Linked DNA regions of Homo sapiens: regions 2, 3, 4, 5 and 6 are each linked to region 1. Evidence: fine-mapped expression QTL. A gene starts in region 1. Each other region holds a variant in brackets. All regions are shown on one strand. Distances are between the middles of the regions.

Region 1 (4,755 bases):
CTTCTTGCTCTGTTGCCCAGGCTGTAGTGCAACTCACTGTAGCCTCGACTTCCTAGGCTCAAGCAATCCTCCCCCCTCGGCCTCCCAGTAGCTGGGACTGAGGCAGAAATTAAAATAATAATAATAATAAGTACTACATATATTCACTCCAAGAGAAGTAAGAGCTAAGGCCCAGAATGTGGCAAGGCAAGGGTTAAAAAAGAAGAAGAACAAGTTTTCCTCTGCTTAGCAGCTCACTTCAAGGACAGTTATAAGATAACGCTGTCCGAAAAGCCAAGGCCAGAGGACTGGGCTCCAGACCCCGCCCTCCACCCCACCGCCCGCCTCCAGAGCAAGGTTGAAGGAAAAAAAAGAGAGAAAGACAAATTATTTTATTGCTATTCCTTTCCTTGGTCTCTTAAGCATGACTATGTTTTACAAACCTCTCTATTTAGCCAGTTCTTGTTTTACTTTTGATGCAGCTACAAGGCCACCAGCTATGCAAGGCCACAAGTTATGCACTATATGATTAACTACTTTTGTTTTACCTTTCTAAGCTTGCTTATAAAAACCCCACAATATCTTTGTTCTAGGCTCAGCTTTTTGGATGTGAATCCACTGAGCCAGTGCGTACGTTGAAATAAACATCCTCCTGTTCTCTCATATTGGTCTCTCCGTTCCTCAGTTTCCCACAACAGGACTACAGGTGTGCACCACCAAGCTCAGCTAATTTTTATATTTTATAGAGACAGAGTCTTGCCAGGTTTCCTAGGCTGGTCTCAAACTCCTGGGCTCAAGCATTCCTCCCACCTTGGCCACCCAAAGTGCTGTGATTACAGGCATGAACCACTCACCTGGCCTTCCCTCTCAAATTTTAAGAGTTCCTGATATATTATATGATATATGTTGAGATATATATACATATATATATGTAATGTATATATATGATATATGTTGCAAATAGTTTCTCCTGGTCTGTCAGATGTCTTTTGACTTTGCTTATTGAGTTTTTTGACATGAAAAAGTTAAAAAATTTATACAGTCAAATGCATTAATCTTTTATTGCATCTAGGTTTTTTTTTTTTTTTTTTTCTTTTGAGACAAGGTCTCATTCTGGTTGCTCAGGCTGGAGTGCAGTGGTGCAATCTCGACTCTCTGCAGCCTCGACCTTCCGGGCTCAGGTGATTTTCCTACCTCAGTCTCCCGAGTAGCTGGGACTATAGGCGCGCCTCACTGCGTCCGGCTACTTTTTTGTATTTTTAGTAGAGACGGGGGTTTCACCATGTTGCCCAGGCTGGTCTTGAACTCCTGAACTCGCCCGCCCTGGCCTCCTGGAGTGTTGGGATTACAGGCGTGAGCCACCGCGCCCGACGGCATCTAGGTTTTGAGTAGTAGTTAGACAGCTTTTTCCCACACACATGTAAAAAGGGTATTTGAGGGACAATGGGAAAAGTTGGAATAAAGACTGCATTAGATAACTGTATTAAATAAATGGCAAATACCATTAAATAAATCTGGCCGGGCGCGGTGGCTCACCCCTGTAATCCCAGCACTTTGGGAGGCTGAGGCAGGCGGATCACCTGAGGTCAGGAGTTCAAGACCAGCCTGGCCAACATGGCGAAACCCCGTCTGTACTGAAATTACATAAATCAGCTGGGCGTGGTGGTGCGCGCCTGTAATCCCACCTACTCAGGAGGATGAGGCAGGAGAATCGCTTGAACCCGGGAGGCGGAGGTGGCAATGAGCCGAGATCGCGTCACTGCACTCCAGTCTGGGCGACATATGGAGGTTTTGTCTTGTCTCAAAAAAAAAAAAAAAAAAAAACTTGGGGAAGTGTGCTAAACCGGGTTTGCGTAGGTGGAAGGGGCGGCCGGGCTCTTTAAGGTGGGTCCCGCCCCGTAGGCCTCCCCTCGCGCCAGCCCCTCCCATCCCGGAAAGGCTCAGCCCAAGCCCGGCCCCGCCCGCCCTCGGCCCCGCCCATGGCAGAGCGCAGTCACGTGACCCGGGCTGCGGGGCGCAGCATTGTGCGGTCATGGTGGGCCAGATGTACTGCTACCCCGGCAGCCACCTGGCCCGGGCGCTGACGCGGGCGCTGGCGCTGGCCCTGGTGCTGGCCCTGCTGGTCGGGCCGTTCCTGAGCGGCCTGGCGGGGGCGATCCCAGCGCCGGGGGGCCGCTGGGCGCGCGATGGGCAGGTCCCTCCAGCCTCCCGCAGCCGCTCGGTGCTCCTGGACGTCTCGGCGGGCCAGCTGCTTATGGTGGACGGACGCCACCCTGACGCCGTGGCCTGGGCCAACCTCACCAACGCCATCCGCGAGACTGGGTAAGGGTTGGCTTATCCCCACGCGGGGCCATCGGGGGAGGGGGATGCGTGGGCGCCGGACCTCGCCTGTTCCCGGGACCGGCCTCTTGCCGGGTGGGAACGCCCGTTTCTCTGGGGGTCAGCTACTCCCGAGGCTGCAGCACCGCCCTGCGGGCCAAGTACCCTGTTTGGGAGCTGGCTACTGCGGCATCCCTCACCTCATGGGGCCAGTCCCTTGCCTTCAGCCAGTGGTGACAGTACTTCTGTCCCCAAGAAGCCAGTTCCCTACCACCGAGGCCGCAGTGCCTGCATCTGGATCAGGTCCATGGCTGGTGGGTAAATTCTATCCTCACGGGGACCTGCTCCCTTCCCTAGACTTTGCCTCCTCACCCCATGGAGGCCAGCCCCCTGTCCCCAGGCCTGAGGGGTGATGAGAACTCAGCAGGAGACTAATTCTTACCTGCTTGGCTGTGGCTTGCTCGTGGGTGCCAGCACCCTGCCTCCCTTCCAGTGCCAGGTCAGCAGGACTGAACCTGGGTTCCAGGCTAGTCCAAAAGCAGAGGGTCCCTAAAGTCACATAGACCCATTTAGTATCCTGCTAGGGCTCTGCTCCTCCCTTGTCTTCTGTGTCCTGGTCCAAGGGGAAGTCCTTGGCTGGATGCCGTGTTTGGCAGCCATGCTCACCATCTTTATTGCTGGAACCCAGGCTGTCATTCTGATGTGTGAGTCTCACCTAACTCCTCCGCCTGTCTGGGCTCCCGTTTCCCCATCTGTGGCCCAGATTTTGAGGATGTGCTCTAGTTGGGTGGTCATGTGCTGCAAGTTCTGTACAAGGGCTTGTGCCCATTCATTTATTCATTACCCTGATGGTTGGCCTTAGGGACACAGCTGAGCAGCTGTCTCTACTCAGTGGGAAACACAGACAGCGATAGAAGAGAAATCAGAGTCAGTGGGAGTGGGAAGGATCAGCTTCAAAGCCTTGTCAGCAGGGCCCAGACGCTGGATCAGGCTGTGCTGGGGGATCCTAGGGAACCCGGGGTGCATCCGTCATATCCTAGTGTCCAGATGATGCTAGGGAACCCTAGCACTAGGATGTGCCCAGGATGTGGTCTGTGCTCAGACCACACTGCCCCCTGCAGCAGAAAGGGCCTCCTCCCACTTTAGCCCCTATCCATTTTACTGGCATCCATTGGCTTCTGCAGGTGTTAGGGAGACACAGGATGCCGAGGACACCCCCATTCTGGTGGCACTTGGGGGGTACATCAAGTAGACGTGAGATTTGGGGGAGATATTTGCACAGACACAGGGGCACTGGTTGGGGTAAATCTGGGAAGGCTCCCAGAGAGAGGAGGCCACAGAGTGAGCTGGCATCTGTGGAGGGAACTGAAGCTTTGTGGCTGGCCTCGGGGGCTGCCGGGACTCTTGGATCTGGTGACCCGTTCTTTGCTGACTCACTCATGTTTTTGGCCCTGCATAGCAGAATCAAGAGGACATGACAGAACTGTTCAGGCGAGGAGGGGCAGGAGCGAGGCCCAGCATGGGGAGGGGGCTTTGGCCTCTGGAGGCCCCTCCTGGGCTGTGTTGCTCTTGACTATGGTAAACATGGAAGTGGAGAGAAGGCTTCCTTGATTGTGCTGGATGGAAAGTTCTTCCAGGCTCAGCCCCTCTGCTGTGTGACCTTGGGCAAATCCCTTCACCTCTCTGAGCATGTTCCCTCATATCAAGGTAGGACCAAAAGGGTCATGGAAATTCACTGGGGTCACAGAAAGCACTGTTTATTTATTTTTATTTGTATTTTATTTTTTGAGACACAGTTTCACTCCGTTGCCCAGCTGGAGTGCAGGGGCACGATATTGGCTCACTGCAACCTCCCCACCCTGGGTTCAAGCGATTCTCGTGTCTCAGCCTCCCAAGTAGCTGGAATTACAGGTGTGTGCCACCATGCCCGGCTAATTTTTGTATTATTAGTAGAGATGGGGTTTCACCATGTTGGCCAGGCTGGTCTCAAACTCCTGACTTCAGGTGATCTGCCCATCTTGGACTTTCTGGCTTGTTTTCGGCACCCTCTCTCATCCCCTCCTCTTACGCTCACATGCCCCTTTCCCTTTGAGTTTGCCAGCCCTTGAGGCTCTGATGCAGGGAAAACCATAAAGCGAGCCCCATTTTATAGGCAGGAAACTGAGGTCCTCAGAGACAGCTGCTTGAGGACTCAGGGTCAGATGAAAGAAAGCCATAGGGGGTGTCCTGGCTCCTGATCAGCAGAATCTCTGATCTGTGGGGGACTCTGTGTCTTATTTCGGAGGGTGGGGGCAGGGATTTGATGCCTCTGTTCACTCAGAATTAGGATCCTCCTCCTTCCTGGTGAAATCCCCAGATTTTGCCACTGGGGATCCTGGGATTATCAGGATAAATTCTCCCTACACCATAATCCTTCGTCTTTTTTATTTTTTAAAAAAGGTTTTTTTTTTTTTGTTT
Region 2 (4,755 bases), 120 kb before region 1:
TTGAGCCCAGGAGTCTGAGACTGCAGTGAGCCATGATCACACTACTGCACTCGAGCCTGGGCATAGAGTAAGACCCTGTCTCTAGAAATACATATATACATATATATTTCAAAATAAAATATAGGTGGGAGGGCTAAGTTTGGCAAAGAATCCTTTCGTAGTATGAATAATACCCATTCTGTTCATCCAGCATCAAGCAGGGTTTTGTGAATCCTGCTCCCCCCAGCTAGGGCTTACCTGGTTTGTGAGTTTCTTTCTTGTGTCTCCCTGATGCCTGTTTGAGATGACTGGGCAGGGCAGGGCAGGAAGGTAGAGGCCTAACCCAGTGTAATGCCTGGGTGTTAATGGCTGTTGTTTTAGGTGCTGATGTTTTACACAGCTGTGCCTCTTTCTGGTAGTACAAGTTTTGCAAAGGCAGGGATCATGTCTCTTCTACACATATTCTGGGCACAATAATAGACATAATAGAAGTTGCATATCTGGGAGTGAGTCACCGGTTTCCAAAAACATCCAGGGTCCCAGGTGACTGTCACAGCTAAACCAGCCCCTGGAGCCACTGGAGGGTGACAAGGAGACTCATTCACATGTGATCAGACCAGAAGTAGCCCAGCAGGGCATGGCGTTGCTGCCCCTAGGAACAGCCTACTTTTTGGATGTTTGGGTCTCTGCTTCCAGCTTCGAACTCCCCAGGAGCCCACACATGTCCAATCCCAACCTTCCTTCCATCTAAGCTTCCCCGTCGCCGCCCTACCATTTGTAGACTGCCTGTCTCTCTTTTTTATCTCTCTTTTTGTTAGATTGGGATTTTATTATTTTTTTTTCCTAATTCTTTCAGCACTTGCTGAAAACCAGCTTGGGCAGAGCGACCTGTGCTTAGTGCTGGCTAATGGCTTGGAGCTGCTCCAAGCTGCCGGCTGCGCTGCCTTTCACTTGTGGGTGGTCGTCGACAAGCATGATGTCTTCTCTCTGTGACTCTCGAGGGGCCTCTCTTCTTGCGGGCTCGGCTGTTCACACTTGGCTGGCCTGCCTGGTTGTTTGGAATTGCAGTTTTTACTGCACAGCCTCGAGCCAGTCTGGTAGCTTCAACAGGGCGCAGATTTTATGAGTGCTAAAGTCCACTCAGCCTCCAGCCTAGTTGGCCCATTTGATTTTGTTGCATGTTGTTTTTTGCTATTTCCTCTTGGAGACCAGACGCCGTCCAGAGTGTATGGGGACACAGAAGTCTATAAATGGAGGTGGCTTGGGAGATTCTTAGGCTGTGATGAATGTGTGTCTATTGAGGAGTGATGGTACCTGCTGGTGTCTACAACGGTTGAACATTTTCTGAGTGTCGCGCAGTCTGCAAAGGATGGGGTTGAATTTCTGGCATCGTCTCTTGATAGCTGAACATCCTTGAATGAGGAGCTGAGCTTGTTTTTTCCTAAGTTGCAGTTTCTTCATTGTAAAATCAGTATATGATTGTCTACAGTCAGAGTCTCAACCCATGAGTAGGTAATTGAAGGACTTTCTGCATTGAGGATGTGAACCTTTCCTCCGTTCTCACATTCTTCCGGTTCCTCTTAAGGGATGTGAGTTGGTAGTTTGCATTTTCTGAAGTGTTGTAGCAGTTGAGGGACAGTAGTTAACTTCCTTGACTACCATTCCTGTTGTGTTGCAGGGAGAATTAAAAATCAAGCAGCTCCATCTCCTGCCCATTCTTTTTTTTTTTTTTTTTTGGAGACAGAGTCTCACTCTTGCCCAGGCTGGAGTGCAGAGGCACAATTTCGGCTCACTGCAACCTCGGCTTCCCAGGTTCAAGTGATTCTCCTGCCTCAGCTTCCCGAGTAGCTGGGATTACAGGCATCTGCCATCATGCCTGGCTAATTTTTGTATTTTTGTAGAGATGGGGTTTCACCATGTTGGCCAGGCTGGTCTTGAACTTCTGACCTCAGGTGAACTGCTCACCTTGGTGAGCCTCCCTAAGTGCTGGGATAACAGGCATGAGCCACCGCTCCTGGCCACTCCTGCTCATTCTTTAGGGTGGCTTCTTGATTTCCATTGTATTTTCCTTTATTCACAATGCTCCTTTTGGGCTGCCTTCCCCACCAACAGAAAGGGAAACTGAAGCAAAAGGAAGGGAAGGCCGAAAGCAGTGCCTGGCCATTGACTGCATAGGAATTCAGGGCCCTGGAGAAGTGGCAGGCCTAGGCCATCAAGCTCTCTGTGGGATGTAGCTGTCCTCCAGCTGTCACTTCCCCAATGTGCCCATGCTTGCTTCATGGCCGCCTCACCTCTTGTTACTCTTCTTCTGAACAAAGCCACCTGCAGCAGCAGCAGCAGCAGATCCAGGTGCTGGGGCGTGGCCAGTGTTCATGGAAGCCGGGTCCAGCCAGCCCCCAGGTGTTTCTGGTTAAGGACTAGAGCGGACTTTTGATCTGTGCTGAGTGGATGCCATCAGCTGACACATCAGTAGCCTTCATGCAGCTTGAGTCTCAAGCCAAACTTGTTCTTCCGAGCACTGGCTTTCTGCTGACCTCTTGCAGGGGAACCAGAGCGCACCAGTGCACAGTGAAAAATGCCTTTAATCTCCATTTGCTCTTCTCCGGCTCCCTTCCTTGTCCCTGGGTGTTTCACAATTAGCATTTCAGATGCTTCCAAGTGAATATGGAACAGATGTTCGCACAGGTGCTGTACTCTTCACTGGGTAAACAGTGGCGTTTGCGTGCCTCTGCGTGTGTGTGTGTGTGTGTGTGTGTGTGTGTG[T/TGTGTGTGTGTGC]GCGTGTGTGTGTATGAGACAGCAGGAAGCATAGGGCCTTTACAAATGTTTTTTAAAGCGTCTAAAACACTTTACACATGACGGGTACTCAATAAATACTTTGTGAGTGAGTGAGCAGTGGCAGGGAAAGCCCTTTGTTTCATAATAAACCCAGTGGCATGGGAGCAGGAAGTACAATTCCAAGTTGGGTCTTGAAATTCATGGACTAAAGAAGAAGTCATGTCCTGCCTCACCAAGAAATTACCCGTGGACATCTGGCAAACCGGGGGGCATGCTGTAGGGACAAGACACAGTTCTCCATCTCAGGAAGGAGGATTAGACAATAAAAATGACCGTGGCGGCCCCTGGCAATTTAATCTGCCTCACGAATGTGAGCTGGCCACGGCTGTGCTGGGAAAAGGAACTTGCGGTTTTGCCCATGCAGAATGTTTGCAGATGGGTTAGGGAGTTAGCCAGGACTGACCTCCTTGGCTGTGTTTTTCCAAGTAGCACACCTGATCAGGTTGCTCCACACCATTAGTCCCCAGTGGCTCAAGTCCAGGCCCTCAGCATGGCTTTCCGCCTGGCCTACACCCCCAGCCTTGCGGAAACAGTGGAGGGAAAGGTGAGGGCTTGGCTGCCCGTCGTTTCCTCCCTCTGTGACCTTGGGCAAGTCACTCAGCTTCTCTGGGCCTTAGTTTCACCCTCTGTAAACTGGGGATAATAATCAAGTCTTGTTTGTAGGGCCTTTGTACACTTAGAAGAATTAATTAACGTAAAGCCCTTTCAACCGTGTCTGGTGTGTGGTAAGTACTGAATGCGAATCGTGGCTGTTACCTTTGCCCACTGCGTCATCCTGGTCACTGGTCTCTGGCACTTTAAGCTTCAGAATTACAGAACCCTCTGCAGTTTCTCAGACGTGCCCTGCTGTTGAAGTCTCTGTGCTCTCTGAATGACTATCCTTGTTTCTAGAATGTGCCACTCACCCCATCCCCATCCACCCTGTGAATACCTCCTCATCCCTCATGCTTGAAATGCCAGCCCTGGCATTCCCCTGAGTTCCTCCCTGCCACTGGCCACCAGCCCCCACGGAGGGCCCTTGTCATCCCAGCCCATTTTAGATCTCAGTGCACCAGAGTCACGATCCTTCATTACCTACTGATGGAGAGTTCCATGAGGGCGAGGGCCATGGTTTCACCTTTTCTAATCCAACACCTAGCACAATGCCTGGTATACAGTAAGTGCTGAATAAATGTCTCCTCAAATTAAACCATATGTGTTTGCATGTAGGTGGTCAGTCTTTTAAAACTACATCTGGCCGGGTGCGGTGCCTCACACCTGTAATCCCAGCATTTTGGGAGGCTGAGGTGGGTGGATCACTTGATGTCAGAAGTTCAAGACCAGCCTAGCCAACATGGTGAAACCCCATCTCTACTAAAAATACAAAAATTAGCCAGGCCTGATGGCGGGCGCCTGTATTCCCAGCTATTTGGGAGACTGAGGCACAAGAATCACTTGAACCCGGGAGATGGAGGTTGCAGTGAGCCAAGATCGTGCCATTGCACTTTAGCCTGGATGACAGAGTGGGACCCTGTCTCAAAAAAAAAAAAATACTACATCCTCCCTTTTTCTCCCCAAAATTATCATGTGATTTATTAAGACTAGAGGCCAGGCACAGACTCATGCCTGTAATCCCACTCCATGGGAAAGCATGGCTCATCCCTATAATCCCAGCACTTTGGGAGGCCGAGGTGGGTGGATCACCTGAGGTCAGGATTTTGAGACCAGCCTGGCCAACTTTGTGAACCCTGTCTCTACTAAAAATACAAAAAATTAGCTGGGTGTGGTGGCAGGCACCTATAATCCCAGCTACTGAGGAGGCTGAGGCAGGAGAATCACTTGAACTTGAGAGGTGGAGGTTGCAGTGAGCCAAGATTGTGCCACTGCACTCCAGCCTGAGCAACAAGAGTGAGACTCCATCTCAAAAATAAATAAATAAAAATAAAAATAAAATAAAAAAAGTTTAGAAAGGTG
Region 3 (4,755 bases), 77 kb after region 1:
CCTGGAAGTGCTTGTCCAATTCTCAGGAGGCCTCTGGGCCCACACCAGGTATGGTCTCATCTGCAGGGCTGTCCCCAGACTACTAGATCCTGGGGCCACCAAGGAGATCCTGGGCCTCTGCTCCGGCCTCCATAGCAGTCCCACTCCCGGCTGTTCTGAGGGCCCTTGGTTTCTCTGTAGGTCTGGGACGAGGCCAATCTGAGGGCGCAAGAGTTGGCCAAGAGGGACGGCTGGGAGAATGTCCCCCCGTTTGACCACCCCCTAATATGGTAAGGCTGACGCCCCTCTCCCCAGGAGTCCAGAGCTGGGAGACCTTCACTGAGTCAGGGTCCTCCCATTGGGCAGAAGGAGAAACTGAGGCCCAGAGGGGAGAAGAGGCTTCAAAGCCAGGCAGACATGGGTTCAGATCCCACTTCTGCCCCCTTGTGAATTGTGGGACTTTGTGCAAAGCACCCCAGATCCTGTGCCTCAGTTTCTATGTGTGTAAAATGGAAGTGATAGTACCAAGTCTCCTTTACTGAATATGTGCTTTGGGACCAGGCACCAGGCTAATGGCTCCTCCTGCACTGTTCTATTTACCCTCCCCAAAGCCCTAGAGGTGGGTGCTATTATCCCCATTTCATAGGTGAGGAAACTGAGGCACATCGAGGTCAAACAACTTGCCCCGGATCACACAGCTAAGTACATGGCAGATACAAAGGGCTGCAGTCAGGCTGGTCCCAAGTGATACACTTGTCCCCTCTTAACCACACATTGCCATTGCCTCTTTGCAAAGTTGGGGAGGGGGCTAAATTGGGATAATGTCCAAGAAAGGGCCTGGGAGGTTGATGGAGATGGGAAGGGATGAGCAAACAAATACATAATAAAGAAAATGAATGAGGCCAGGCGCGGTGGCTCACGCCTGTAATCCCAGCACTTTGGGAGGCCGAGGCGGGTGGATCACCTGAGGTCAGGAGTTCGAGGCCAACCTGGCCAACATGGCAAAACCCTATCTCTACTAAAAATACAAAAATTAGCTGGGCGTGGTGGTGCGCACCTTTAGTCCCAGCTACTCGGGAGGCTGAGGCAGGAGAATCGCTTGAATCCAGGAAGTGGAGGTTGTAGTGAACTGAGATCGTGCCACTGCACTCCAGCCTGGGTGACAGAGTGAGACTCTATCCAAAAAAATAAAAATAAAGAGAATGAATGAAGCTGAGTGAAGTAACTGTTGCAGGACTTCCTCTCCCCTCACCGTGGATGGGATGGGGATGGTGGGGAGGGGTTTATGTATATGAGGGGGCAGAGAACCCACCCCTGGTAAATTCCCCCACCACAGGAGCCATCTGGGCTGGGGTCCTCCCTCACTCTGCTTCTCCCTCTCACCCCCCCTCCCCAGGAAAGGCCACGCCAGCCTGGTGCAGGAGCTGAAAGCAGTGCTGAGGACCCCACCAGGTGCCCTGGTGCTGGCAGTTGGGGGTGGGGGTCTCCTGGCCGGGGTGGTGGCTGGCCTGCTGGAGGTGGGCTGGCAGCATGTACCCATCATTGCCATGGAGACCCATGGGGCACACTGCTTCAATGCGGCCATCACAGCCGGCAAGCTGGTCACACTTCCAGACATCACCAGGTGGGTAAGGGCTGGGGACATTTGTAGGGGCTGGAGGGTGGGTGTGCCACTGTCCTAGGGCCTTCCAGTCCCAGCCGGTGGAGACGGGGGCACCCAAAAGGCTGTCCTTGGTCCTGGGACTCCAACCACAGTAAAGTGGACCTGAGTTAGAAGGCAGTGCTGAAAAAGGAGATGAGGAATATGATTCATGTAAACCTAATCAGTTCTTAAAACAAGCTTTCATTGACTTATCATTACAAAAGCAATCCATGTGTGTTGCAAATAAGTTTGAAAATGTAGGCCAGGCACCATGGCTCATGCTTGTAATCCCAGCATTTTGGGAGGCTGAAGCAGGTGGATCACTTGAGGTCAGGAGTTTGAGACCGGCCTGGCCAACATATAGTGAAACCCTGTCTCTACTAAAAAAATACAAAAATTACCTGGGCATGGTAG[C/T]GCACGCCTGTAGTCCTAGCTACTTGGGAGGCTGAAACGGAAGGTTTGCTTGAGCCCAGGAGTTTGAGGCTATTGTGTGCTATGATCGTCCCTGTGAATAGCCATCGTGCTCCAGCCTGGGAAACTTAGCAAGACCCTGTCCTCCCCCAAACCCCCCAAAAGCCAATAAATTTTAAAAAGAACATGATCACTGAATTTAGGACCCACCCTAATCCAGTATGATTTCACCTTAATTTAACTAATTACATCTGCAAAGACTCTATTTCCGAGTAAGATCACATTTTGAGGTTCTTGGTGGATGAGCATTTTTTTTTTTTTGAGATGGAATCTCACTCTGTTTCCCAGGCTAGAGTGCAATGGCGCGATCTCAGCTCACTGCAACCTCTACCTGCTGGGTTCAAGTGATTCTCCTGCCTTAGCCTCCCAAGTAGTTGGGATTACAGGCATGCACCACCACACCCGGATAATTTTGTATTTTTAGTAGAGACGGGGTTTCACCATGTTGGTCAGGCTGGTCTTGAACTCCCCGACCTCAGGTGATCTGCCCACCTTGGCCTCCCAAAGTGCTGGGATTACAGGCGTGAGCCACTGCGCCCGGCAAGGACACACTATTTTTGAGCACCTCCTCTGTGACTTATAATGCTGAGCTCCAACCAGCCCATGGCAGGATGGGAGGGGGTGGCTGGGGCTGGGGAGAGACCTGTTTCACCAGCTCTTCCCTGAGCCCCTGGTCTCCCTGCCCCACCCTGCTCTATCCTGCAGTGTGGCCAAGAGCCTGGGTGCCAAGACGGTGGCCGCTCGGGCCCTGGAGTGCATGCAGGTGTGCAAGATTCACTCTGAAGTGGTGGAGGACACCGAGGCTGTGAGCGCTGTGCAGCAGCTCCTGGGTGAGTGATCCCTGTCCTCCACCTGGGCTCAGAGACCCACGAAGTCCCTGCATCCTCTAGCAAGAGTGTGTTCTGTCTTATCTGTATCCTCAGCACCAGGCACTGGCTAGGTGTGCAGTTACTGTGCACTAAGTGCACGTCGAGTAGATGGAAGGGGGTGAGGATAAAGAAGGAGTGTATCTTGCTGTCTCTAGCCCCCAGACTTTCATACATGCTGCTCCTCTCTCTGGCTGGCCCTGCTCCCTATTGGTTTGATGTGACTGAGGGCTATCAGCCATCATAGCACCTCCTTCAGGAAGCCTCCCTTGATCACTCACCCCACGCTGCCTGGGTTGTGGACCTCCAATGCACCACTCCCTGTGTTCATAACCTCCTGGTTCTTATCCCTCTACATCACTGATGTGAGCCCCATGAGGGCTGGTGTGTCTTAGTCCCTGACGTGTCCCTAGGGCCTTCCTGGCATAGGGCATGGCAGGTAGTAGGCACTCAATAGATGTTTGTTGATTGAAGGGATGAATATATGAGTGAGTGGAAAGGTGGGTAATGGATAGATGGACAGTGGATGGATGGACGGATGGATGGATAATGAAGTGACGGATTGATGAATGGTATAGAAATGAATGAATGGACAGACACATTGATTAATGAACATGTTGATGGATGGACAGACAGTCAAATGATGGATAGAGGAATGGATGGATGGCTATGAATGGGTGGATGGATGGATATGTTGATGGATGGGTACACTGATGGATGGACAGATAGATAGTCTAATGATGGATAGAGGAATGGATGGATGGATAGAGAGATAAAAGGTGGATGGTGGAAGGATAGGAGGCCAGGCTGATGGATGGGGAGAGCGTGAGACAAGTGATGGATTGCCAGCAGAGCAGATGAATGGCTGACTGGCTGGAGAGATGGCTGCAAGGATCTGCCGTGCCCAGGGCCTGCTGAGCACCGAGTGGTTCTTCTTCCCTTTCCTTCCTCTCTCCATCCCCCGATCCTGGCAGATGATGAGCGTATGCTGGTGGAGCCTGCCTGTGGGGCAGCCTTAGCAGCCATCTACTCAGGCCTCCTGCGGAGGCTCCAGGCCGAGGGCTGCCTGCCCCCTTCCCTGACTTCAGTTGTGGTAATCGTGTGTGGAGGCAACAACATCAACAGCCGAGAGCTGCAGGCTTTGAAAACCCACCTGGGCCAGGTCTGAGGGGTCCCATCCTGGCCCCAAAGACCCCTGAGAGGCCCATGGACAGTCCTGTGTCTGGATGAGGAGGACTCAGTGCTGGCAGATGGCAGTGGAAGCTGCCCTGTGCAACTGTGCTGGCTGCCTCCTGAAGGAAGCCCTCCTGGACTGCTTCTTTTGGCTCTCCGACAACTCCGGCCAATAAACACTTTCTGAATTGAGTTTGCGAATGCTATGGATCCTATCTTTCCATGTCAGTGAGCTCACAGGAGACACACCACAATCCTGTTGCCACTTCTGTAATAAAGTGACTCCAAGCCCCATCTTAGGCAACAAAGCCAAGACTTGAAAACCTCAGTCTCTAAAGGAATCCAACCATTATGAGATCTTAAATGGGCTTCCTTTACCTGGAGGACCAGCCCAGGTTGACCAGGTCAGGAAGGAGAGGGAGATGTTCTATCACTTCTCAGGCCTAGGCAGGAGAGGAAAATAACACCAGTCTTCATGCAGTGCTTGTTATATACCAGAAACTTTGCTAAGAACTTTCTACTCATTGTCTTCTTTAACATTCACAAAGGTACTAGGAAGTAAAAACCATTATTACCATCCCCATTTTACAGATGCAGAAACTGAGGCTCGGGAAGTTTACATAA
Region 4 (4,755 bases), 29 kb after region 1:
TGGTTCTAACACCCAGAGCAGGGTGGTGTGGGGTGGCCAGGCTCAGGGACTGGCCCCTGCCAGGGTCTCTGACTGGATCTGCCTTACTGGGCTGTACAGCTGTCACCTCCTGAGGCTCACTTACTTTACCTGCATTTTCTCATTTGACTCTTAAAATTGCCACATGTGGTCACTAGAGTTCCTGTTCCCATCTCACAGATGATGAAACTGAGGCCCTGAGAAAGTACCTCACTTTCCCAAGCTTCCCCTGTTGGCGAATGGTGAAGGCAGGATTTGTTTTTTGTTTTTTGTTTTGAGACAGAATCTTGCCCTGTCACCCAGGCTGGAGTGCAATGGTGCAATCTCAGCTCACTGCAGCCTCCGCCTCCTGAGCTCAAGTGATTCTCCTGCCTCAGCCTCCTGAGTAGCTGGGATTACAGGCGCCAGCCACCATCCTTGGCTAATTTTTCTATTTTCAGTAGAGACAGGGTTTCACCATGTTGGCCAGTCTAATCTCAAACTCCTGACCTCAAGTGATCCGCCTGCCTTGGCTTCCCAAAGTGCTGGGATTATAGGCATAAGTCACCACACCCGGACTGAAGGCAGGATTTGATGCCATGCCTTTTGGGCCCCAGAGCCCAAGCTTGGCCACCCCACCAAGCCACCCCCCAGCACAAATGGAAGACATTATTGTTATCCCGAATGTCATAGTTGGTTTTGTTGTTGTTGTTGTTGTTTGTTTGTTTGTTTTTAGAGACAGAGTCTCGCTCTGTCACCCAGGCTGGAGTGCAATGGTGCGATCTCAGCTTGCTGCAACCTCTGCTTCCCGGGTTCAAGCGATTCTTGTGCCTCAGCCTCCCAAGTAGCTGGGATTACAGGCACGTGCCACCACGCCGGCTAATTTTTTTTTTTTTTTTTGAGACGGAGTCTCGCTGTGTCGCCCAGGCTGGAGTGCAATGGTGCGATCTCAGCTTGCTGCAACCTCTGCTTCCCGGGTTCAAGTGATTCTTGTGCCTCAGCCTCCCAAGTAGCTGGGATTACAGGCACGTGCCACCACGCCGGCTAATTTTTTTTTTTTTTTTTTGAGACGGAGTCTCGCTGTGTCGCCCAGGTTGGAGTGCAATGGCTCGATCTCAGCTCACTGAAACCTCCACCTTCCAGGTTCAAGTGAGTACATGCCTCAGCCTCCCGAGTAGCTGGGATTACAGGCACACACCACCGTGCCTGGCTAATTTTTGTATTTTTAGTGGAGACAGGGTTTCACCATGTTGGCCAGGCTAGTCTCAAACTCCTGAGCTCAGGTGATCTGCCCGCCTCGGCCTCCCAAAGTATTGGGATTACAGGTGTGAGCCACTGCACCCAGCCTGAATGTCGTAGTTGTAAGTAATAATGTCCTGGTGTGACTGCCCCTCCCCTCCCTGGCCACAGCCTTGGCTGAGTGAGGCCAGTGGGGGTCATGGGTGACCATCCTTGTCCCCGGCAGGTCCTTCGAGACTGTGTTCAATGCCAGTGGGCTGCAGGCCCTAGTGGCCCAGTATGGGGACTGGTTTTCTTATGACGGGAGCCCCCGGGCCCAGATCTTCCGGCGGAACCAGTCACTGGTACAAGACATGGACTCCATGGTCAGGCTGATGAGGTAGGTGCCAGTTGGGTGGTGGGTTGGGGAGAGGGAGGCCGCAGGAACACAGAACTTCCTGTGCGCTTTTTGTACCAACTCATTCAAACTTTGCTGCCAGCCCCAGAGGGCCAGCAGGGGGTGGTCAGATGTTGGACACCAGTGCAGCAGCTCGGTGGCCGCTCTCCACTTGGGCCCTGTCACTGTCCTCATAGCTAAGGGGAGGATGCTAGACATCTGTTGAGTGACCTGTACTGCTAGGCACTATGCTTGGTACCAGGAGCAACAGGTAGAAAACCTGTGCCCCACTGTCCTGTCTCTTGGGCGGTGCAGAAATCCATCAAGTTCTTGCACTGGTGTCAATGTGTAAAGATGGCTGTGTTCCAAGAGAGGCTATCCAGGAACAAACGGGTGCCTCACCTGGCTGGGGTGGTGGCATGGAGGCCTTCCCTGAGGATGAGTGCCTGAGCAGAGAGCTGAATAATGAAGGCAGAGTGACTTAGGTGAAGGGGTCCGGGCCCCAGGCAGAGGAACTGTCGGGGGTAGTGTGCAGTGGGAGGGGCTCATCAAGTTGAAGGCTGGCAGCTGTTAACGGGGCTGCCTGTGAGGATTTTGGCCCCCGTCTTAGCCTCTCCTTCCTGGGATGACTGATGTTCCCTCCTTTTCCCCATCCAGGTACAATGACTTCCTCCATGACCCTCTGTCACTGTGCAAAGCCTGCAACCCCCAGCCCAATGGGGAGAATGCTATCTCCGCCCGCTCCGACCTCAACCCGGCCAATGGCTCCTACCCCTTCCAGGCCCTG[C/T]GTCAGCGCTCCCATGGGGGTATCGATGTGAAGGTGCTGCCTCCTCCCTAGGGCCTGAGCTGTGGGTGGGGGAAGTCACCATCACCAGCTTTGGGGAAGGGACAGGTTGGGGCAAAGCTGATGGCGGGGCAGGAATCACAGTCGGAATTGGGCTGTGGTTGGGGTCACAGTAAAGGTGACAGTATGGGCTGGGCACGGTGGCTCATGCCTGTAATCCCAGCACTTTGGGAGCCCAAGGTGGGCAGATCACTTGAGGTCAGGAGTTTGAGACCAGCCTGGCCAACATGGTGAAAACCCGTCTCTACTAATAATACAAAAATTAGCTAGGCGTGGTGGCGGGCGTCTGTAATCCCAGCTACTCAGGAGGCTGAGGCATGAGAATTGCTTGAACCCGGGAGGCAGAGGTTGCAGTGAGCCAAGATCACGTCACTGCACTCCAACCTGGGTGACAGAGCAGAGACTCAAAAAAAAAAAAAGTGACAGTTCAGAATTGGGCTCTGGGGTCAAGGTCAGGGTGGGAGGCTGGGTGCCTGGATTGGGGCAGGCCAGGACCCCTGCTCAGCTGCGGCTCTGCCCTGTCCCCAGGTGACCAGCATGTCACTGGCCAGGATCCTGAGCCTGCTGGCGGCCAGCGGTCCCACGTGGGACCAGGTGCCCCCGTTCCAGTGGAGCACCTCGCCCTTCAGCGGCCTGCTGCACATGGGCCAGCCAGACCTCTGGAAGTTCGCGCCTGTCAAGGTTTCATGGGACTGAAGTTCTGTCCCTGCTCTGCTGCTTTCGCCCCTGCTGACCCTCGTCAGGGTCACCCCCGTCCCAAGGCCACCGGACTTCTAACTCCAGCCCCTCCTGGGGGCTTCGTTCTCTGATCTGGGGTCTGAGTCATCTCCTCCTAGAGTGGGTCACGAACCTGATGGGGCTCAGAACTGACCCCCTCTCTCCCCCGAGGTGGGTGGGCACCGTGGCGTCTCTTCTGCCCTGCCCTAAATCTCCCACTCTCTGTTTCTGTCTGTTTCCTACTGCTGCTCTCTCAACCTCATTCCCACCTCTGGGGCCCCTTCCTCGTGCTTCTCCTTCCTGAGGGTTTGGGAAGGTCCTGGGGCAGACTCTGGGGCTCCCATGGGGTGGAAGGAGCCTGTTCCAGCACCCTTCTCCCAGCTGCATTCCCACGGGTGGCCCTGGAGCTGGTGAGCTTTGTCTGGGCGTTGTCTTCGGCTGGCATTGCTCCTCCCAGCTCTGGCCCCTCTGCTCCCTCAGGAAGCAGTCCCCTCGTCTCCCTTTCTGGGCAGCTTCCTTGAGGACAGAAACTTGAAAACAAACACAAACCAAAGTTTCTGGCCATCTGTGGCTGGAGGGTTCTGAATGTCCTCTCTCCATGTCAGGCAGAGGGTCAGCCCCCATGCTTCTGCCTCAGGCCCCACCCCACCCCACCCCAGGCCTGCCCCTCACCTCAGGGCCATACCCACAGCGCCCTGATGGAGGAACCAGACCGCAGGCTGTGCCACCATTAAACAAGAGCGGCTGTGGCCCCATGCTGTGCTTCTTGGGGTGGCAGGGAAGGTGGGGTCAGCGCTTTTTCTCCTCTCAGGTTTGGGTTCTGCGCCATCCCCCATGCAGCCTCCTGTGCAGCCCTCTGTCTGTCCTTCTGTCCATTCATTCATCTGCCAACATACTCACCCATCATCCATCTGCACAGCCTTCCACCCACCCATCCGTCTTCCATCATCCATCCATCCATCTACCTATCCATTTATCATCCATCCACTCACCCATCCAACCACCCATCCAACCATTCAGCCATCTCCATCTGTCCATTTTCTTTCTTCTTCTTTTTTTTTTGTTTTTGTTTTTTCTGAGTGGGAGTTTCACTCTATTGCCCAGGCTGGAGTGCAATGGCATAATCTCTGCTCACTGCAACCTCTGCTTCCTGGGTTCAAGCGATTCTCCTGCCTTAGCTTCCCAAGTAGCTGGGGTTACAGGCATGAGCCACCATGCCTGGCTAATTTTGTATTTTTAGTAGAGACAGGGTTTCACCATGTTGGCCAGGCTGGTCTCGAACTCCTGGCCTCAAGTGATCCGCCCGTCTTGGCCTCCCAAAGTGCTTGGATTACAGATGTGAGCCCCCGCACCTGGCCTCATTTGTCCATTTTCCATCCACTTACCCACCCACCCATTTACTCATCCAGCCATTGACTCATCCATCCACCTATGAGATCAGACAGGGAGGGATCCTTTTTTGTATTGGTCTGTATACCACAGCATGGCTTACGAAGTTCTTATCTATCTATCACCCATCCACCCACCCATTTATCTACCCACCCATTCATCCACCCACCCATCCAACTACCTATCCATTCAT
Region 5 (4,755 bases), 34 kb after region 1:
CATCCATCCATCCATCCTTCCAACCATTTATCCACCCATCCAAACATTTCCATCTGTTTTTCCATCCATCTACCCATCCACCCATTCACTCATCCATCCACCTTCCTATCCATTTATCATCCATCTACCCACTCACCCATCCATCCAACCTTCCAACCATTTATCCACCCATCCAACTATTTCCATCTGTTCATTTTCCACCCATTTACCCATCTACTAATTCACTCATCCATCCACCTACCTATCCATTTATCATCCATCTACCCACTCACCCATCCATCCATCCTTCCAACCATTTATCCACCCATCCAACCATTTCCATCTGTTCATTTCCATCCATCTACCCATCTACCCATTCACTCATCCGTCCACCTATCCATTTATCACCCATCTACCCATCCATCCACCCACTCATCCATCCATTCATCCATCCACCCACCCACCCGTCCATCCACCTACCTATTCATTTATCACCCATCCATCCACACACGGGTCTGTGCAGATTCATTAATATCCACCCATGCATCCATATTTATCTATTTTCTATCCATCAGCCATCCATTCATTCATATCCATCCATCCATCTATCCATCCAGATGTTTATTGAGCACCTGTGTTCTGGGTCCTATTTGGGAGCCTTGTTAACCACCAAGACCTTCCTAAGCCATATTGTGGTATACAGACAGATACAAAAAAAAAGGCTCTCTCCCTGTCTGATCTCATGCAGCCTGCCTTGGAGACAAGACTCTCCCAGTGCTGTGTGCTTGGAGAGAGGAAAGCACACAGCCCTGGAGTCAGAGACCTGGGTTTCAATTCTGTCTCCACCTCTTATTAGCTAGCTATGGACTCCTCTCTGAGCCTCGATTACCTCATCTGTGAAATGGGGTAATGGTGTGAGCAGCGTTTCCCTGGGGGATGTGATGCAGCCCACTTGGGGCCTCATGCACTCAGCATCTCTTTATTAGCAAACACTTATTGAACCCCTAGTACATGCCAGGCACTGTTATGAGGTCCCGGGGATACTTTATAACAAAAGGGACAGAAGCATTCCTGCTCTTGTGAAGTTTACATTGACTAGATAGTAAACAAAATAAATGAAATATGCAGTGTGTCAGTGCTGGTAAACCCGTGGAGAAAATAAAGCAAGGTTGGGGTCTGGGGTTGGGAATTGACTTGTGGTTTTATCTTATTTTCCTTTTTATTTATTTATTTATTTTTTGAGACGGAGTCTCACTCTGTCGCCAGACTGGAGTGTAATGGCACAATCCCGGCTCACTGCAACCTCTGCCTCCTGGGTTCAAGTTATTTTTCCTTTTTGTAGAGACAGAGTCTCACTGTGCCAACCAGCCTGGTCTTGAACTCCTGGGCTCAAGCGATCCTCCCACAGGCGTGAGCCACTGCGCCCAGCCCTGAGTGACTCTTAAACTTCAGTTTGAACTTGGGGTCATCCAGAAAGTACCCTGAGGGTGGGGTTCCCTCCATGCTCTGGAGCCAGCCCCAGTAATTCCTCTTTGATCTATGATACGGGCTTCAGCATATGCTTTTGTTGGAAGAGAGGGCTCCATGTTTGAGGAGGGTTTGCATGACATTGACTTCAAGTCCACCCACCCTTTCCCTCTCCCAGAGATGGGTGTCCAGTGTCAGCTCACACACGCCCAGGGGAGGGGGCCTCACTTCTTTGCTTCCATTGGGTCTGTGATGAAATAATTCTGACTTAGTAGGAAGGACTTCATATCAGAATGAAGTTGGCCTCCCCAGCTGCTTCTGCCTTCAGCGGAGGCAGCCTTTGTCCCACCCCAAGTCCCTCTTGTTTAGCCACCTGCTTCCTGTGGTACAGGGATGCCCCTGTCCTGGCATGCAAGACTAGCTGGAGTCAGGCTCCTGGCCTCACTCTGGGGCCCCAGTTGAGAGCTGGGGCTGAGAGCAGACTTGGGGTGGAAGGAAAGCAGGAAAGGAGACAGCTGATGATGGGAAAATGCACAGGATCTTTGTTTCATAAATATATTTTATTTTTCAATGAAAAAGTTTGCACATTAGAAAAATTAGTAAGGGTCAGGGGTGGGCTTCCTGGGAGGATGGCTGAGATGGTTCCTCAACCCTGGTTGGTGGCCCTGTTGACCTTCACTGGGAACAAGTTCAGGGGCGAGGTCACAGCTTTGAGGAATTCCTCACTGCTGTGATTCAGGTCTCTCCTGTCCACCCTGCTCTGGGTACCTGGTGTGTTACTTGTGGGCACTTGTCACGCCAGCAAGTTGGCTAAGGATGGGCACAGAGCAGTCACACAGATACCAAAAAGGTCCAATTCATAGCCTCGCTGGCTGCCGACCTTTGGCCTCTGCATAGTGGGCTCCTGATAACAAGAAGTTAACCTGCACCCAGGCCACAGGTGCTCAG[C/T]CAAACATACGACGAGGCGCTGGATAAAACTCCAGCCCCTCCAGGGGTCTCTTGGGCTAGGAGAGCACAGATCGGTAAGGGGTCCGTCCTCACTTGGGCAACCTATTTGTCATGCCCAGCTGTTCCTTGAGCGCCCGCAGCTGGGCCAGGCTGATGTTGCTGCCCCCGCAGACGATGACCACGAGGGATGGCAGCGGGGTTCGGAGATTCCCCTCCAGTTGGAGCTTCTGGATCACGTGGCTATAGACAGCGGCCAGGGCTGCCCCGCAGGCGGGCTCCACCAGGATCTTCTCATCATCTGCCAGAGAAGGGGCGTGACAGGGGCGTGGCCTGAGTTTCCCAGGGTGCACAGGAGCTGACAGGCCATTGGCAGGACCTGGGAATACTGAGCCAATCAGCTCTCAGCCCTGGCTGCAGCCGCAGGTCCTGAACCAAACGTCCCGTCATCGGCCTGAATTGGCCCTTCCAAGCCTGAGCCAGGGCCTGGGTTTCATCATGAGTGCTAACACTGATAGAATGAGTGTGGTTGCGTGAGCACTGTGTTGAGAAGGATTCTGAGGCATCATCTGAGCAAGAGTTCCATGGTTGATTAGCCAAGTGTGCAGCAGGTACAGAAGCATAAATGGTACTATTTTTTTCTCTCTTTTTTGCCATCCCTGCCCTAGACGGAACCCAGAAAGAGTCCAGCCTAGTTACAGACTCACCTCTGAATGAATCAAACTCTGAGCCCCATGTTTTCCTTTTTTTACCCTGGCTGCCAGGAAACTCAGAAGCAACATTTTAAATATTCACTTATTGTTTTCTGCTGCTATGGTTATCAGGCTTACTTTTCTATTTACTTTTCCATTATGTGTGGCTTTTGCTTTTCTATTTCTACACGGCATTGTATTATCTTCTATTAATGGAAAATTCTAGGCAGAGGTGGAAGACAGAACTGTGAAGGAAACTTGGGGTGAGTGGGATCCCCAGTGGCATACCAAGTGGACAGCCACTTAGCGCCTGAGTCAGCAGGTCAGGTCATGGGAGGACCTGGCACATACCCACGAACTTCTCAATGGCGGCCACAGCCTCCTGGTCCGAGATAACTTCAGAGAAAATGGGGTGTTCCTGAAACAGCTTCAGGGCCTGAGCCCCCACAGTCTTCACGCCCAGGGCCTTGGCAACACTGAGAGAAGTGGGAACCCAGAAGAGGATGGGAGTGGGGGAAACAGGAGAGAGATGGGGGCAGGGAGGGAGAGAAGGAGATGGATGTGAGACAGAGAAGGCAATGCATCTGGGGGCAGGGGGACAGGTATCACCTCTGCAGCTGTAAAACCCTGAAAAGCCTCAGGGATCCCCAAACCAAGTGGGGTCTTCTAATAAGGTGCAGAGTGTTTGAATTGACATCATATAGTATATTCTTTAGTATCATTTTTTTAATTTTTTTGAGACTGAGTGTCACTATGTTGCCCAGGCGGGTTTTTGTTTTGTTTGTTTTTTTGTTGTTTTTTTGTTTTTTTTTTTTTTTAGACGGAGTCTTGCTCTGTTGCCCAGGCTGGAGTGCAGTGGTGCGATCTCAGCTCACTGCAATCTCTGCCTCCCGGGTTCAAGCAATTCTCCAGCCTCAGCCTACCGAGTAGCTGGGACTACAGGTGCCCACCACCACACCCGGCTAATTTTTGTATTTTTAGTAGAGATGGGGTTTCACTATGTTGACCAGGCTGGCCTCGAATTCCTGACCTTAGGTGATCCACCCCCCTCGGCCTTCCAAAGTGCTGGGATTACAGGCATGAGCCACCATGCCCGACCCCAGGCTGGTCTTGAACTCCTGGGCTCAAGTGATCCTCCTGCCTCGGCACAGCGTCATATTCTGATCAACACTAAGTCAGGAGCAAATGCCTAAGAGGACCCTTGTTGTTCCCTGCTAGGACTCCCTGCTTTTGCTCCGGGTTACAACCGCTACCTGGTTAACCCTCATGAAGCTTAGCACCACTCTGCCTGCCCACATCCTGCTGTGTCCTTCAAGGCTCAGGATTAAGGCCACCTCCTCCAAGGAGTCCTCCTGGGAGAGTACTGAGTCCCACGGCCCTATGTGGAATTCTCAAATAGTCCTCCCTGCTAGTAACAAGCGCCCTGAGTACTTCTTGAGAAAGTGTTAGGTGCCAAGCACTTCACAAGCATTATTGAATTCACACAAGAATTCTGCTGTTGTTAATTGGTTTGATTTTGGAAAGGGGAAACTGAGGCAGAGAGTGTACAGTCACTTGCCCAAGGTCACACACCTAGGGAGTGCTGGAGCTGGGGCTGCAAGCAGGATCTGTATAACTTCAAGACCTGCACTGGTAACCAATGTGTTGACGCTGTCCCCAGCTTCCTGGGGTG
Region 6 (4,755 bases), 150 kb before region 1:
ATGTCTGCTCACCCCCCAACACCATGTCTCAGATGGACACCCCCCATAACATCCCCATCCCTCACCCTGATTCTTCTTCATCTCTTCCCCCTTATCCTGTTCGTTCTCCAGGTTAAGTATCACCATCTGACATCCCTATATGCACCTGTTTATTTGTTTATTGTCTGTCTTTCCCCCTCTCCTAAGAAGTAAGCACCAATGAAAGCTGTAAGTTACTACTTACAGGTTACCTGTGCCACTTTTATTTTCATATTGTCTGTAGATGTGAGAAATGTTTTGAAGAAAGAATCATTAGGACTTGAGTGAAAGAGTTTTGAGTTTGGGTGACTGGTAGAGAAAGATGGGGCCCTTAAGAAACTATGGCAGAAATTGGGAGAGGAGAGGACATTTGGAGGGGAGGACAATGAGCTCACTTTTAAACTCATTGAGCTCTAGCTGCCATACTGCAGTGGACAATGGTGTCTTGGCCTTCCCATTATCCAGGGAGTGCAGTGGCACGATCATGGCTCACTGCAACCTCGACTTCCTGGGCTCAAACAGTCCTCCTGCCTCATGCTCCCGAGTAGCTGATACTACAGGCACGTGCCACCATTCCCAGCTAATTATTGTATTTTTATTTTTGTAGATATAGGGTCTTGCTATGTTGCCCAGGAGAAGGAAGTGACACTTGAAGCCACAAAAGATAACTTCAACTCACCAAACCAAAGAACACACCAAGAGAATGGCAGGGAATCAAAGAAACACCCAAAGTGACTAAGAACGAAAAAGAAAGGCAGGCCAGATCAGGTGCTAAGGATGTTTAGTTCCTTGGCAAGGCAGAATGTATTCAATATCAGGCCAGGTATCATGGTTCACGCCCGTAATCCCAACACTTTGGGAGGCTGAGGCAGGAGGATTTGTTGAGCCCAGGAGTTTGAGGATGCAGTGAGCTATGATCAGGCCACTGCATTCCAGCCTGAGCAACAGAGTGAGATCTTGTCTCTTAAAAAAACAAAAAAACAAAAAACAAACCAGAAGCCCCTTTGGGAGCAGAGGATTGGGAATTATCTTCAATCACTTTGATTCACACACACTTCCTGCTCCCTAATGAATCTCATGAGATCCTTTGAGGCTTTTCCTGAAGACAAAGTTTTAGGAGGCTGGGCATGGTGGCTCACAGCTGCAATCCAAGCACTTTGGGAGGCCAAGGAGGGAAGATTCCTTGAGCCCAGGAGTTCAAGATCAGCATGGGCAACAAAATGAGACCTCTACAAAAAGTTAAAAAAAAAATTAGCCTGTCATGGTGGCAGGTGCCTGTAGTCCCCGCTATTTGGGGAGCTGAGGCAGGAGGATTGCTTGAGCCAGGGAGGTTGAGGCTACAGTGAGCCATGATCGCACCACTGCACTCCAGCCTGGGTGACAGAGCGAGATCCTATCTCTCCTCTTTTTTTTTTTTTTTTTTAAGCTGGAGTTTTGCTGTTGTCACCCAGGCTGGAGTGCAATGGTGTGATTTGGGCTCACTGCAACCTCTGCCTCCCAGGTACAAGCAGTCTCCTGTCTCAGCCTCCCAAGTAGCTGGGATTACAGGCGTGCACCACCACGCTAGCCTAATTTTGTATTTTTAATAGAGACAGGGTTTCATCATGTTGGCCAGTCTGGTCTCAAACTCCTGACCTCAGGTGATCTGCCCACCTTGGCCTCCCAAAGTGGTGGGATTACAGGCGTGAGCCACCATGCCCAGCCTAGATCCTATCTTGTAAGTGAAAAAAAAGTTTTAGGGACAGCCATGGAGATTTCTCAGGCTCTCTGAGGATGAAGGATCTTTGCCCATGGCTACAGGATGAATGTGAACAAGGTAGTTAATGAATGCAGTCCTCTCCATTGTACCCCAAAGCTCTCAGGCATAAATCAAAATGCCTGAATTCTTCAGAGAGTGCGGCTGGAAACGCAACGTTACATGAAATGTTTCCAATTTGCTTTCAGCCAAATTACCTCTTTTGCTTTAAAGGGCAAACTTGTTTTCTTTGATTATGATGACACCCATCATTTCTTGACAGCTCATTTGGGTGAACAAGATAAAGCCCGTGGAACTAGGATTGAGGGGAAATGCATCTGACTCTGACGACAAAAATGACTGGAGAATCTCTTTTCCTTGAATCCTAATATGATCATTTCATGTCCTTTTTAATGCCACCAACCTTAATATTTAAATCATTTCCAACTTAAGCATCTCCGTTTAAAATTCCTGCCCTGAGAGTGAAGCAAATTGTTAATGGATGGGAAACTTTAATTGGATATTCCCTTTATTTGTCATTAATTCTGCTGATGAACTTTATAAATGGAAATATATCTTTATCATGCAAATTATACCTCGTCTTCATTCAAACAGGCTTGTTGGATATTTTATTAATTTTGCTCTTAGAATATTTTGAGGAAAAAAAAGATTTGAACTAAATTATATATTTTTTCCCCCTGGAGAGAAGGAAAAAACCCAACACTTAACAACTACCCTACAAATCCAAACTGGCAAGTGGAAAAGTCAGAGGGTGC[T/TA]AAAAAAAAAAAAAAAAAAAAAAAAAAAACCAAAACAACTGGAGTGTGGGAAATGGATTTCTCTCTCTCTTTTTAAATTCACTCTTAATTTAGGTTCGGGTTACATGTGCAGGTTTGTTATATAGGTAAATTTCATGTCATGGGGGTTTGGTGTACAGATTATTTCATCACCCAGGTAATAAGCATAGTACCTGATAGGTAGTTTTTCCATCCTCATCCGGATCTCATTTTAAGGAATACCATTTTAACATTAGCTAAGTAAGTTCTTGAGAACTTACTGTGTAGCAGACACTGTTCTGAATGCTATATACGAATTAATTCCTTTAATCCTTGCAACAACCCTATGAGGTAGGTGCTATTATTACCTCTATTTCACAGATGAAGAAAGGGAGACAGAGAGAGAGGTTAGATGATTCTAGTTAGTTTACAGCTAGGAAGTGACAGGGCCTGCACCCCATCAGCACTATTCTGTCCAGTCTCTTGATTTTAAGATTGACTTCTGGCCGGGCGCAGTGGCCCACGCCTGTAATGCCACCACTTTGGGAGGCTAAGGCAGGTTGATCACTTGAGGTCAGGAGTTTGAGACCAACCTGGCCAACATGGTGAAACCCTGTCCCTACTAAAAATACAAAAATTAGCTGGGCATGGTGGTGGGCACCTGTGGAGGCTGAGGCGGGAGAATTGCTTGAACCTGGGAGGTGGAGGTTGCAGTGAGCCGAGATTGCAGCACTGCACTCCAGCCTGGGTGACACAGTGAGACTCTGTCTCAAAAAAAACAAAAACAAAAAACAAAAAAACCAAGGTCTTGCTATGTTGCCCAGGCTGGTCTTGAACTCCTGGGCTCAAGAGGAATTTTCTTTTTAGCCTCAGAAAGATCTCACTACCCTCCAAACCTCTAGCTTTCTTCCGAACTCTGTATGTTTTATCTGAGGCTTTCAAGTCTAGGGAGGGGGAAAGTGAGGGGCTAGAAAGAAGCAACAGATTCATGATGAAACCTGCTATCCCAACCAACTACTATACAGTAGGTGCTCAATAAAGAAATCACTGTTGCGGTTGGGCTCAGTGGCTCACACCTGTAATTCCAGCACTGTGGGAGGCCGAGGCAGGTGGATCACCTGAGGTCAGGAGTTTGAGACCAGCCTGGGCAATATGGCGAAACATCTCTACTAAAAATACAAAAATTAGCCGGGTGTGGTGAAACATGCCTGTAATCCCAACTACTTGGGAGGCTGAGGCAGGAGAATCACTTGAACCAGGGAAATGGAAGTTGCAGTGAGCTGAGATCGCACCACTGCACACTCCAGCCTGGGTGACAGCGTGAGACTCCGTCTCAAAAAAAAAAAAAAAAAAAAAGAGAAAAAAAGAGAAAAGAAAAAGAAATCACTGTTGAATAAATGAGATGGCAAACCCAGATTTACCAACAGGCTTGTCTCCTCACTGGGAGATGCTGGCATAATAGGATAATGTTGTTTTGCAAAATATATATGTCCTGAATTGGAGCCAGAAAAGAGAGTCATATTTTCATGATAGAACTGTAGGCCAACAATTGGCCTATGAATTCTTTTGCATCCCTTTACTCAGGGCTTGGAATTTTTTAAACAAAAGTTTTAAATGTAATGAATTTTTTACTTTTTCATAGTTGAGTGGTTTTTTTTTTCTTTCTGTGACTAATTTTGAACTATTACCCAATCCTCCTCTCTTGTTCTTTTTGAGAACCTGTGTTTTATGGTTTACAACTGGTCTGTAAAAGATTCCCAGGCTAGGGCTGCAGCAATGAATGCTGGAGGTATTGACAGTTGGGACCCTGTTTGTAATGCTGGCTGGGTGGCTGCAGGCTCCAGGATTATCTGGTGCTTTGGAGACAGAGGACATGGGATAGTGACTCAGATTGGGAGGGAACATGCCCCCCGGGACAGATTTCTATGTTGCTGGTTATGATGAAATACTTTCCACTGACCACAAGCTATATAGCCTTGGGCAAGTCCACTTGATCTTCTGGGCTTTCATTTCCTCATTACTGAAGTGGAAACGAAAAACACATTTGGAATGCAATTCCAGTGTCTCACCACTTCCTGGCTGTGTGGCTTTGGGTAAGTCGATTAACCTCTCTAAGCCTTGACGTTCTACCTGTGAAATGGGACACAGCACTGTTGAGGGAATGAAATGAAATCCTTGCTCAAAAGTGTTACGCTTTTATGACTTTTAGTACTACTTCAAAAATTATGT

Alleles and levels. Alleles are on the strand shown, and positions count from the first base shown. SD is a standard deviation of normalised expression in the study named. Not every link is listed here.
For the expression in iPS cells of the gene that starts at base 1,998 in region 1, T is the low allele of the variant in region 3 and C is the other (large effect, 1.1 SD a copy in HipSci).

The links. PIP is the estimated chance that this variant, and not a neighbour inherited with it, causes the effect.
Region 2: its variant is fine-mapped to the expression of PLBD2 in whole blood (INTERVAL, PIP above 0.99).
Region 3: its variant is fine-mapped to the expression of PLBD2 in iPS cells (HipSci, PIP 0.95).
Region 4: its variant is fine-mapped to the expression of PLBD2 in sun-exposed skin (GTEx, PIP above 0.99).
Region 5: its variant is fine-mapped to the expression of PLBD2 in whole blood (INTERVAL, PIP above 0.99).
Region 6: its variant is fine-mapped to the expression of PLBD2 in skeletal muscle (FUSION, PIP 0.95).

What each region holds. Positions count from the first base shown.
Region 1 is chr12:113,356,590-113,361,344 of GRCh38, forward strand. PLBD2 (phospholipase B domain containing 2) reads left to right here and starts at 1,998. Exons shown (of 12, transcript NM_173542.4): 1 at 1,998-2,301. The coding sequence starts at 2,012. It overlaps LOC105369989 (a long non-coding RNA gene), which reads right to left and starts at 2,921. Exons shown (of 3, transcript XR_945346.3): 1 at 2,741-2,921. RefSeq lists silencers at 1,812-2,311, 2,362-2,421 and an enhancer at 2,757-3,256.
Region 2 is chr12:113,239,051-113,243,805 of GRCh38, forward strand. The region is part of intron 2 of TPCN1 (two pore segment channel 1); the gene reads left to right. Among named protein-coding and RNA genes, the nearest start is that of TPCN1, 20 kb to the left of the region's middle. The variant T/TGTGTGTGTGTGC (reference allele first, on the strand shown) is at 2,743.
Region 3 is chr12:113,433,954-113,438,708 of GRCh38, forward strand. SDSL (serine dehydratase like) reads left to right here. Exons shown (of 8, transcript NM_001304993.2): 5 at 181-269; 6 at 1,376-1,603; 7 at 2,798-2,922; 8 at 3,933-4,323. The coding sequence ends at 4,126. Among named protein-coding and RNA genes, the nearest start is that of SDSL, 14 kb to the left of the region's middle. The variant C/T (reference allele first, on the strand shown) is at 2,036.
Region 4 is chr12:113,385,475-113,390,229 of GRCh38, forward strand. PLBD2 (phospholipase B domain containing 2) reads left to right here. Exons shown (of 12, transcript NM_173542.4): 10 at 1,463-1,615; 11 at 2,270-2,432; 12 at 2,985-4,755. The coding sequence ends at 3,152. Among named protein-coding and RNA genes, the nearest start is that of SDS, 16 kb to the right of the region's middle. The variant C/T (reference allele first, on the strand shown) is at 2,400.
Region 5 is chr12:113,390,458-113,395,212 of GRCh38, forward strand. It overlaps PLBD2 (phospholipase B domain containing 2), which reads left to right. Exons shown (of 12, transcript NM_173542.4): 12 at 1-1,172. It overlaps SDS (serine dehydratase), which reads right to left. Exons shown (of 8, transcript NM_006843.3): 7 at 3,435-3,559; 8 at 1,988-2,692. The coding sequence ends at 2,484. Among named protein-coding and RNA genes, the nearest start is that of SDS, 11 kb to the right of the region's middle. RefSeq lists an enhancer at 2,757-2,956. The variant C/T (reference allele first, on the strand shown) is at 2,395.
Region 6 is chr12:113,210,647-113,215,401 of GRCh38, forward strand. The region is part of intron 1 of DRC10 (dynein regulatory complex subunit 10); the gene reads right to left. Among named protein-coding and RNA genes, the nearest start is that of DRC10, 8.1 kb to the right of the region's middle. The variant T/TA (reference allele first, on the strand shown) is at 2,530.